Linked DNA regions of Homo sapiens. The protein of the gene in region 2 purifies or fractionates together with the protein of the main gene of each other region. This does not show direct contact. Each region holds a gene or a part of one and is shown on either strand. Other genes may lie near its edges.

Evidence for each region.
Region 1: the proteins of GPSM1 (region 2) and DACH1 purify together in Homo sapiens (affinity purification with mass spectrometry; 2 studies listed by BioGRID and IntAct, with this or other methods). This does not show direct contact.
Region 3: the proteins of GPSM1 (region 2) and KLHL18 purify together in Homo sapiens (affinity purification with mass spectrometry; 2 studies listed by BioGRID and IntAct, with this or other methods). This does not show direct contact.

Annotation. Positions count from the first base shown.
Region 1 is NC_000013.11:71,864,333-71,868,425, reverse strand, and holds the start of DACH1 (dachshund homolog 1), read left to right. Parts: upstream 1-1,221; 5' UTR 1,222-1,656; coding exon 1,657-2,504; intron 2,505-4,093. UniProt on the Homo sapiens protein: Transcription factor that is involved in regulation of organogenesis. Seems to be a regulator of SIX1, SIX6 and probably SIX5.
Region 2 is NC_000009.12:136,354,896-136,358,539, forward strand, and holds part of GPSM1 (G-protein-signaling modulator 1), read left to right. Parts: exon of another isoform or gene 1-127; intron 128-794; coding exon 795-951; intron 952-1,446; coding exon 1,447-1,655; intron 1,656-3,118; coding exon 3,119-3,325; 3' UTR 3,326-3,644. UniProt on the Homo sapiens protein: Guanine nucleotide dissociation inhibitor (GDI) which functions as a receptor-independent activator of heterotrimeric G-protein signaling.
Region 3 is NC_000003.12:47,285,930-47,289,573, forward strand, and holds part of KLHL18 (kelch-like protein 18), read left to right. Parts: intron 1-1,306; exon of another isoform or gene 1,307-1,419; intron 1,420-3,644. UniProt on the Homo sapiens protein: Substrate-specific adapter of a BCR (BTB-CUL3-RBX1) E3 ubiquitin-protein ligase complex required for mitotic progression and cytokinesis.

The DNA.
Region 1 (4,093 bases), on a different chromosome or scaffold from region 2:
ACAAGTTAGAAAAGAAAAGAAAAGGAAAGAGGAAGGAAAGGAGGAATAGAGTCAGTCTAAACTCAGCCTCATGTTGTTTTAAGCACAGCTACCCAAGTCTTTACAAGTCAACTAGTGAGCTTTGTTTTTGTTCTTCCCATTATTTACAAAACATATATTTACTGACAAATTGAAAAGGACTTTCCAAAACTACAGCAGCACTTTTCAAACATGAAAAAAAAAAAAAAAAAACTATTGTGTTGTCCAAAAAACACATTAGCAATTGGCTTTGGGTCTTAAAGGACATGAGGATAGTTGGTTACTGTGTAAGACAGGTGAATTAATTATAGAGTTTTGGGTAAGAAAACCCTTTTTCCACTTTCTAAATCTTCAAGGATACCTTATCTCCTTGATAGCTCTAGGTTTAACAGGTATTTCTGACTGGCTTTTGGGGAGACAGTGAAGTTATTCTAAATCATCCACATCAAGGCAAGCATTTCTTTCCACAACCTATTAGGAAATATGGAATTGAATACAGAGCTTTCCATTATTCTTAAGCGATTTCGGACTGACTTTCTTCTCACCACTTGAAAACTGTCCTGGAATTTTCACTATCTTTATATAAATAAATAATTTAGTAGAGAAATAAACAATCAGATGCAAAAGAACATTACGCTTTGCTTACATGTGAATTTTCCTCAAAATAATTTCTGAATAATCGTGAAGTGGGGGCTGTGTTTTCGTTTCTAGCTCATTGCCAAAACGCGTGGAGATGGATCCTAAATCCTGGAAGGAGAGAGCTCGGCGCGCTCAGGCTCCTCTTTAAGTTGGCGGGCGATTGTTTAGAAGCTTTGGAAAAAATTACCAGTCCCCGCGGACGAAATGGAATGTGAGACATGCAATCTAACGGTAGTAGTAGAAGAGAAGTAGATGATCTCCCTCTCCTTTTCCGATCGCCACTTCTGTGTCCCCGGCTTTTCCTCTCCGTCCCTCCCACAGTTTCTTTCCGTATCCTCCCCCTCCCCTCCTCCTTTCCTCGCACGCTCCCTCTCCAGTGTCTCGCGCTCTCGGAGTCTCTGCTCCGAGTTCCTGGTTGGATAATTTGGGTTAATACTAGTGAGTGAGGTTTTTGCGGCTTCAAAGGGTATTTCAAGTTTCCGGAGCTCCTCCCCTCTGCACCGTGTGACAACAACAACTCGTCCAGCCGGCAGCCTGCACTTTTCAGCTCATTTTCTCTCTGTCATTCCCCTCTCAATCTTTGATCAATGTACTTGCCAGGGAGAGCCCAAGTCCTTCAAACCTCCTCCTTTTCACCTTCATCCTTAACTTTGTGCTAGAGCGAGACCCACACAACAACAGCCGACCCTCCCCGCCCCACCCCCACCCCCAAACCAGCCCTCGATCCCAGCCCCCGGAGAGGACTCGCATTTCGACTTGCGGGACACTTTTGTGCGTTCCTCTCCAGAGCGCCTCTCGTGCTCGCCCCTCTTGCGCTCGCTCTTTATTACCTTCACCTCCTTTTCTCCCCCTTCTCTCCCTTTCTCCTTCTCGTTCTCTCCCGGAGTTGTTGTTGCCCCCCTCGCTCCTTCTCCCCCCTTTTTTCCCCTTCCCCTCCCGGGGGTGTGTGGCAACTTTTCCTCTCGCTTCTCCTCCGTCTGTTTCCCCTTATATGTGACCATGGCAGTGCCGGCGGCTTTGATCCCTCCGACCCAGCTGGTCCCCCCTCAACCCCCAATCTCCACGTCTGCTTCCTCCTCTGGCACCACCACCTCCACCTCTTCGGCGACTTCGTCTCCGGCTCCTTCCATCGGACCCCCGGCGTCCTCTGGGCCAACTCTGTTCCGCCCGGAGCCCATCGCTTCGGCGGCGGCGGCGGCGGCCACAGTCACCTCTACCGGCGGCGGCGGCGGCGGCGGCGGCAGCGGAGGCGGCGGCGGCAGCAGCGGCAACGGAGGCGGCGGTGGCGGCGGCGGCGGTGGCAGCAACTGCAACCCCAACCTGGCGGCCGCGAGCAACGGCAGCGGCGGCGGCGGCGGCGGCATCAGCGCTGGCGGCGGCGTCGCTTCCAGCACCCCCATCAACGCCAGCACCGGCAGCAGCAGCAGCAGCAGTAGCAGCAGCAGCAGCAGCAGCAGTAGTAGCAGCAGCAGCAGTAGCAGCAGCAGCTGCGGCCCCCTCCCCGGGAAACCCGTGTACTCAACCCCGTCCCCAGTGGAAAACACCCCTCAGAATAATGAGTGCAAAATGGTGGATCTGAGGGGGGCCAAAGTGGCTTCCTTCACGGTGGAGGGCTGCGAGCTGATCTGCCTGCCCCAGGCTTTCGACCTGTTCCTGAAGCACTTGGTGGGGGGCTTGCATACGGTCTACACCAAGCTGAAGCGGCTGGAGATCACGCCGGTGGTGTGCAATGTGGAACAAGTTCGCATCCTGAGGGGACTGGGCGCCATCCAGCCAGGAGTGAACCGCTGCAAACTCATCTCCAGGAAGGACTTCGAGACCCTCTACAATGACTGCACCAACGCAAGGTGAGTCGGGGGGGATAGCCCCCGCCGCCCGCGCCCCTTCCCACCAGCCTGCTCGCCTGCCCTCGCTCCTTTCCCGGCGCCGCTCGCTCTGCGCGCCCGCGAGCCGCGCGCCCCGGCGAGCGCGGCCCTCTCCTCTCCCTGCTCGGGGCTCGCCAGCCGCGCCCGACCCCCTGAGAAGTTGGCACCTCACCCTGCCCAGACCTCGCTCTTCGGCCCGGTCCTCCCCTTGCCCTCTGGGTCCCGGGGATGGGCTGCTGTGGGATGTGGGAAAGCCGAGCCTCGGGGCGGAGGGGACGAGAGGGAGGAGGACGGCGCCTTTGCTGGAGCCACAGCCCCCTGCCCCGGGCGCGCGGGCGCCTGGAGACCCCTCTCAGCGCTGCTGTCCGCGTTCGTGCGCTCCCCAGGACCTGGGTTCCACGGCCAGCCTCCCGGCACCGACAGGGCTGATCTGTGGCGCCGAGCGGTGTCCCGGGGGCGGGGGGAGGTCGTGACCTGCTCCGCAGGGCTCGGGGAGCGGGGAGACGCGCTCCGGGTGAGGGCCCCGCTGGGAAAGGCGAGGGAGCGGACCAGCACCCGAGGAGGGCACTTTGAGGTCGGGAGGGAAATGACCCGCGAAGCTGAGAGACCGGGTCCATCCCGGGGGATGGGCTCCGGGGACTTGAGCTCCGAAGCCCGGAGGGGAAGCCAGCCGAGGGGAGGGGTCTGTGTGTTCGCGCATGTGTGCGTGTGTCCGCGTGTGAGCGAGTGCGTGTGCAAAGGAAATAAAGGGGTACGGTGGCCCCGGGGCAGATGCGAGGGCAACCAGCAGGTTTTCTTCGGTAGGGGGAGGTGACCGATTGCCCGAGACTCAATGGAAGCTGAACTGGAGAGATTAGGAAGGAAAGCCACGGAGCGCGCTCTCTCTCGATCTCTCTTTCGAGTTCTCTGTCTCTTTCTCTCCAAAGTGTGTTTTCTTTCTGTCTTTCTCTCTCTTTTCTTTTCTTAAAGGTTAGTAGCTTAAGCAGCGAGCAGGTGCACACTTTGCACTGGGATGCTCAGCGGCCCTGATACTCTGTGCCTTGGCTTCCCCAGCCCAGCAAAGCGCGCGCACGGAGGAGGCGGCGGGACCGGTCCCCAGCCAGACCAGTTTTATGCTAATGAACGCTCAGTGGGGGAGGATCTACCAAGAGGGGGCGGGAGTGGGGCAACTTGTCAGTTTCGGGGTAGAGATGATCATTCCACCCCCTTTCACAGCGCCGCTTTGTCCCCACGGTTCTCTGCAAGGAAGCGCAGAGGCAAAAGTTCAGAGTGAGATTCCGGGAGAAAGAAAATAGGGAAAGTTGAAGACCTGAAGCGGGCACGTGGGAACTGCGCGCAAAATTTGCGCAGAAACTTCGGTACCCTCCAAATAAGTTTGAAGATTGAGAGAAGGAGCGGAGTTAGTGTGTGCTCCCGCAGAGATAGGGAAACTTAGGTGGAAAGGAAGTGTAGCAAGGAGACCAGAAGGACATTGGGTTGAAAAAGCGCTAGCTCTTTTTTCCATGGAGAAAGACTTCTTCTCTGTTAGTGCCCGGGAAGGCTGTGAAACGAAAAAGATTCGAATTCCAGTC
Region 2 (3,644 bases):
GGATGTCTGGGAAGTGTTCCAGGCCAAGGCTGGGGAGGCTGGCCCAGGGCAGGTGACGGACAGAGGCCTGGACTGGGGTAGCACCCATGAGAGGGGAGAAGTCCGGGGCAGTCGGCGGGTGCCGAGGGTGAGTGACACGTCCTGGGGGAGGGGTAGCCGGGTGCCGAGGGTGGATGACACATCCTGGGAGAGGGGTAGCCGGGTGCCGAGGGTGGTGACACGTCCTGGGGTAGGGGTAGCCGGGTGCTGAGGGTGGGTGACACGTCCTGGGGGAGGGGTAGCCGGGTGCCGAGGGTGGGTGACACGTCCTGGGGGAGGGGTAGCCGGGTGCCGAGGGTGGGTGACACGTCCTGGGGGAGGGGTAGCCGGGTGCCGAGGGTGGGTGACACGTCCTGGGGGAGGGGTAGCCGGGTGCCGAGGGTGGGTGACACGTCCTGGGGGAGGGGTAGCCGGGTGCCGAGGGTGGGTGACACGTCCTGGGGGAGGGGTAGCCGGGTGCCGAGGGTGGGTGACACGTCCTGGGGGAGGGGTAGCCGGGTGCCGAGGGTGGGTGACACGTCCTGGGGGAGGGGTAGCCGGGTGCCGAGGGTGGGTGACACGTCCTGGGGGAGGGGTAGCCGGGTGCCGAGGGTGGGTGACACGTTCTGGGGGAGGGGTAGCCGACAGGGGGCAGGTTAGAGTCCCGATCTTGGCCAGGGTCTCAGAAGTGTGTGTGGCCTGGGCAAGCAGCCCCCGGTCTCGTCTGGGGGTCTGCGGGGCTAGCTTTGGCTGCGGTGACCCCACTCCCTCCCCAGAGCATCCCGAGGGCCCCGTCTTCGGACGAGGAGTGCTTCTTTGACCTGTTGACCAAGTTCCAGAGCAGCCGCATGGACGACCAGCGTTGTCCCCTGGACGATGGCCAGGCCGGGGCTGCCGAGGCCACGGCCGCCCCCACCCTGGAGGACAGGATCGGTGAGTGCCCCCCTCAGCCGGGCCCTCCCTTGGGCTTGTCTGCAGGGGCCAGGACCAGGGCTCCCGTCCTGCTTCCAGTGAGGAGTTTTCGGGGGCAGACCAGCAGGCCAGCTGCAGAGCACCCTGTCACTGAGGGCGCCCTCCGCAGCCCCCACAGAGCAGCATCCCGGGAAGCGTGTCATCAGCCCGCCCTCCGGGACACACTCAGGCTGCAGGGGCAGTCTCAGGGAGGGGGCAGGGCGTGGGGGACTGGCGTTCTCCTCCTGTCTCCTCCTGTCACCCCCTGGAAGCCCCTGAGGTGGGCGTGGGAGCCACAGCAGGGGGAGCAGCTGAGAGCTGCCTAGGCCGGTCAGCGGAGACTCCCCCAGGAGCCATGGCCCCAGCAGCACAGTGGGCTGGGCTGGGCTCAGAGGTCAGAGCTCACTGTGGCCGCAGCCCGAGCCTCGGGCTTGACCCCGCACTGGGTCCCAGGTCTCACCCTCTGGCCCCCCGCAGCCCAGCCCTCGATGACGGCCTCGCCCCAGACCGAGGAATTCTTCGACCTCATCGCCAGCTCCCAGAGCCGCCGGCTGGACGACCAGCGGGCCAGCGTGGGCAGCCTGCCGGGGCTGCGAATCACCCACAGCAATGCAGGGCACCTCCGAGGCCACGGCGAGCCCCAGGAGCCGGGGGACGACTTCTTCAACATGCTCATCAAGTACCAGGTGGGCTGCGGCCCTGGGCGGGCGTGGCTCGCGGCCCCTTTGCCATCCACGTGTGTGGAGGCAACTTGTGTCCTGAGGGGTGAGGTGGGCGCTGGTTCTGCCATCTCCGGTCATGTTTGAGGGACTCCTGGGGGACTCAGCCAGTGTCACCACATGACCAGGGGTGTCTGAGCCTGAAGCCCTACTCCTGGGAACCCCGGGCTGCTGGAGACACCAGAGACCCCCCCTGGCAACCCCAGGACACTCCCAGGCTGTGCCACCCCCCTGCCATGCAGGAACTCGGGGTGGGGGCTGGGGGGTCACAGGTCCTGGAGCTCATGGCCTCAGGGATTCCCCACCAGCCCTCCACACCCGGCAGGGAAAACACGGGCCAGATAGCACCCCCAGAGTGGGGAGGGCAGGGGGATCCAGGGCTGCCAGCTGGCTGGTGGGACAAAAACAGGGACCATCCAGGGACCACACAGTGGACGGCATGGGCGGAGGGTCCAGCCCCAGAGGGCAGAGCCAGGGCCGGGGCTCCAGCCTGGCAGCCACGCCAGGAATGACCTCCTCATCTGTGTGGGGGTGAGCCAGGTAGGGTGGCCGGAGTGGAGACTGCTGAGCCAACTGCTATCCCAACTAGGACCTCAAACTCTGGGGGTCTCGCCATCCCTGTGGGGTGCAGCCATTGCTGGGAAGGGGTTCAGGGTCCGTAGACTTGGGAACAGGCTGGGGGTGGAGGCCGCTTGGCCCACCACGAACCAAGCCAGCACGTTTCCAGGTCTGCCGTCCTCCCCACAGCAGAGAGGAAACCTCGGCCCGGGGCCAGGCGTCCGACCAGCCACCTCCAAACCAGCCCCACCCAAGAGGCCCAGAGTCCCCCATCCACACGCATGCCTGCGCCAGCTCCCGTCCCTCCTGCTCCAGGCGCTTCAGAGAAGCCCAGACAACCCCTTGGCCCCCTGGCCTGCACACTGGAGCAGGCGAGGCCCACGGGGTCAGCCACCTGACACAAGGGGAAGCCCTGGGGGGCGCCACACTTCGGGCTCTGGAAGCTGAGACCTCAGGCCTGCCAGGGTCAGTCCCAGGCTGTGCTGGTTTCCAGGGCTGGGCAGAGGGACGGCCACGCATGCCCGTCCCTGGGGATCAGCAGATGTGGGGAGCAGGCATCCAACGCCGCCCTAGCCACTGTCTCCTGGGCCTGGCACACCCATGCCCAGTGGGAATCGCTGGACCTGCTTTTCCTGGGCGGGCCTGCCCTGGGCTCCTGCGGGTTGGTGGCGGGGCCACCAGAAGACTGCGCTCAGGGCCCGGGCTCCCAGCACAAGACCCCAGAGCGAGGCAGGCCCCAGAACCAATTTCCTGGGTGGACAGGGGGAAGCCCGTGAACAGTGCACGCTGGCCTCTGGAACCACCGCTGCTGACCAGCCCCGGACCACTGGGGCTGGGGGGGTGAGGCCGCCAACTGCACTGTGTCCACCCAGTCCTCCAGGATCGATGACCAGCGCTGCCCGCCACCTGACGTACTGCCCCGGGGCCCTACCATGCCGGACGAGGACTTCTTCAGCCTCATTCAGAGGGTGCAGGCTAAGCGCATGGACGAGCAGCGGGTGGACCTCGCCGGGGGCCCGGAGCAGGGGGCAGGCGGCCCGCCCGAGCCCCAGCAGCAGTGCCAGCCTGGTGCGAGCTAAGGCCCTGTGCCCACCGCCAGGCCCACCCTGCCCCCACTCCTGGACGCCGGTCTCACAGTCACAGCCACGTCCTCCCGAGGCCATTGCCGAGGACAGGCACTGGGCATGCAGCCCCACGGCCTCCCCGACCCAGGGCGACAGGCTCAGGCCAAGCTGCCCGTGGTGGGAGGGCGTGCTTCCATCCCGGGCTGGCCCCCATGGCCCTCAGCTTCCTCCCTTCTGCCCCTGCCGCAGGCCGGACGGGGCCTTCGGCATGTCGGCCCCGACCTGGTGCTGTCAGACTCCCGCATCCTCTCCCCCAAGCCCTTCCCGTTCTGCC
Region 3 (3,644 bases), on a different chromosome or scaffold from region 2:
CTCAGGAGGCTGAGGTGGGAGGATCACTTGAGCCTGGGAGGCAGAGGCTGCAGTGAGCCGAGATCGTGCCACTGCACTCCAGCCTGGGCAACAGAGTAAGACCCTGTCTCAAAAAAAAAAAAAAAGAATCAGACGTAGTTTCAACTGAGACGGTCAGCCCGAATTGCTGTGTTAGCTTCAGGGATCTAGAACATAAGGACCAGTATATTTATTTTTTTCTCTCTTTAATAAAAAGCCTTCAGTGGGAAGGACTAGTATAAACGCATGGGCTAGAGCTGGACGGGACTGTAGAGAGCATTTACTTCACTGATTTTGAAAACTTTATTGTAGAGCCCAAGGAGTAGCTCTGTAGCAATATAATGGTGGGACCGGGGAAAGAGCATGCAAACCAGGCTCTGCACATTTCACTACTTGCCACCAGAGCTGTCCTGGGAAATCTATTTTGTCTCTCTTTCTTGTCAAAGTCTTCCTTCAGTTTTCTGGTGACTCCACAGTGTTTTTCAAGTAAACAGACACTGAAAAACTGGTTGGAAGCTTTTGGGTGTGAGATGTTTTCTTGACTGGTGGGCCTCCCTGTCAGGCAGTGGTTCTTAAACTTCAGTGGACGTCAGAATCACCTGGTGGCCTTGTTAAAACGCTGGTTGTTGGACCTCACCCAGAATTTCTGATTCATTAGGTCTGGCATGGATCTGAAAACTCATATTTCTGACAGGTTCCCCTGTGATGCTACTGTTAGTCTGGGACCACGTTCTGAGAGCCATGGTTGTAGGGTGATGGACCTGTCGTTTTTCTGTGGGATGTGTTCAAAGTCCGTAGATCTTCCTCCAGGCTTCTTCCTAGGTGGTATAAGCCTGGCTGTTATTTTGGGAGCCTTATGGTAGGAGAGGTCTGGAGGTTCTCCCTTCTGTATGCAGACTTTCACTTAATCCCCCTAAATGGTACCACTTCCTTGTCTTCTGTGGTGCCCTGGTTACCCAGATCCAGAGGCTCTTGTTCATCCTGTCTGAAGAGTAAACCTCCAGTCTTCTGCAGTTGCTTGTCTGGGGAGGGGGACCAGTACTTCCTGATTTCGGCCCTTCTTCTTGCTCACAACTTCAGAGGAAACTGGTACCTCCAGTGGTTCCATTTTGGAGGGGATTCTTCAGTGGCTTGCCATCCGCAATACTCAGTATCCTCTAAGTCAGTTACTACTCATGTGTCTTCTTTTCTTCTTCTAAAATTTTGTTGACCCTTCTAAAATTTTGTTGACCCTTCTAATGTGCTGTCTCTCTCTGCATCTTTTTCCTTCAGAGCTTTGCTGTTCCTTGATCATCAGTCCGAAAGGCGGTATCACACAGACTCTGCAGCCACACTGCCTACGTTTGAGTTCTGGGTCTGCCACTTGTTAGCTGTGAAAATGAGCAGCTTCCTTAAACACTGGTGATTCTCTGTCTCGTCTGTAAAATGCACATCACCACCTACTTGAGTGTTGAGGATTCAATTAGTTAATGTACTTCAAATAATCATGTAGTAAATGCTCAGTAGTGTGTGTGTGTGTGTGTGTGTGTGTGTATTTTTTTTTCTCTCTTTTTTTTGAGACAGAGTCTTGCTCTGTTGTCCAGGCTGAAGGGCAGTAGCGCAATCTTGGCTCACTGCAACCTCCGCCTCCCAGGTTCAAGCGATTCTCCTGCCTCAGCCTCTTGAGTAGCTGGGATTATAGCTACATACCACCATGCATGGCTAATTTTTGAATTTTTGTAGAGACAGGGTTTTACCATGTTGGCCAGGATGGTCTCAAACTTATGACCTCAAGTGATCTGCCTGCCTCGGCCTCCCAAAGTGTTGGGATTACAGGCATCAGCCACCACGCCCGGCCAGTAGTATATATTTATTAATAATAACTTAATGGAGTTTCTAGAAGGAGTGGAGATAAATTCATGTGTTCAACCTGCCATTTTGAATTTGTTTTAGCTTCTGTTGAACTTTGAATGATTTTATCTGGACAAAATGTTCATTGCCTTAAATGACTTTGCTGGCAGGACACAGTGGCTCACGCCTGATCCCAGCACTGTGGGAGGCCGAGATGGGCAGATCACGAGATCAAGAGATCAAGAACATCCATGCCAACATGGTGAAACCCCATCTCTACTAAAAATACAAAAATTAGCTGGACATGCTGGCGCGGGCCTGTAGTCCCAGCCACTCAGGAGGCTGAGGCAGCAGAATCGCTTGAACCTGGGAGGCGGAGGTTGCAGTGAGCCAAGATCACGCCACTGCACTCCAGCCTGGGGACAGAGTGAGACTCTGTCTCCAAAAAAAAAAAAAAAAAAAAAAAAGACTTTGCCAACCACTGCACTAATTCATTAGCCTGCTCTTTACAAATGAAGACCCAAGCCCAGAAAGGGAAGGGACTTACTCAAGGTCACAGGTTGAGTTAAGCAGCACTGGGACTAGACTCTTCGTCTCCATATTCAGGGTCAGGTGTTCTCTCATGCTCTCCTGTTGCATCTTCTGTCACTGACGGTAAATGAACTGATTTCAGCTGCTACCACGTGAATTAATCTACCTCAGGTCTACTGTATTCATCCTTAATGGCGTGTCATCTTTTCTATCTTCCTGAATTTTAGGGAGAACGTGAAAATAAATATTAGCAGGCATGCCACATTCTCAAAATTAACTGCCAACACTTGAACCTAGGCTTAATTTCCTTTTGGAAAATATTTGAAATTTAAATTCACTGGAAGCCTGTCGGATAGTGAGATAGAGGCATGACAGAAAAGAGTAACATATTCATTTAAAAAAAATCACATTCTGTATCTCCCATGGCTTGAACCTGTTATGAGAAAAAGCCCATGGTCCTTTTCCTTGGCAAATCATTTTATCTTAAAAGTTATGAGGATTGTAGTGCAAGACTTGTTGGCATAAGGCTTGGCCTAGGTAGAGAGATTTGTGTCCATGGACGCTCTCATCCCTTCTTCCCAGCGTTGAGTTTCGTGTCCTTTGCTCTGGGCTGCCAGGAGCCCAAGGCTCAGGAAGCATTGTCTGATTCATCTGGGTCTAGCCAGTTGGGCACACTTGCTAGGTTTAATGAGTTTTTCTTCTTATTCATGAGATTTGGAGCCAGATTTTATATATTTATTTTTTCCCCTATGCTTCTGTAAGGCATTGAAATTCATATATTTCTGCTCTCCCTTTATCTCACACATTTATTTTCTTTTTGAGTGACAGCATAATGAGGTCACCAAACCTGAGTATTATTCACAGGGCCATAAGCTTAAAGGAGAGAGGAGCTCCCTATATAGACACACACCCTTTATTTTGCAACCGCTGATAAATGGTTCCTGAAAGATCTGCTGGCATTAGTCTTCTCAGCATTTTCCCAAGGCCCCTGCTGAGGTTTCGAACCTGGCTCTGATAATTTAGCCCTCAGAAGGAAATGTTTTTTCCATGGGTGAAAGGTACAGTATTAGAATATTTCCTTGTGTTACCCACTAAATGTAGGCACACAGTTTTCACGAAATTGGCTTCAAGAGCTACACATTTGAATCTGGAATCTTGCCTAATTTGTTGTCACCACTGGCTTTGTGATGAAAGAGTAGGTGGAGAAGGATATGAGGAAATGAAGTAAGGGCTTGTTGATGCATACCATTTTTATGTTGTGTATA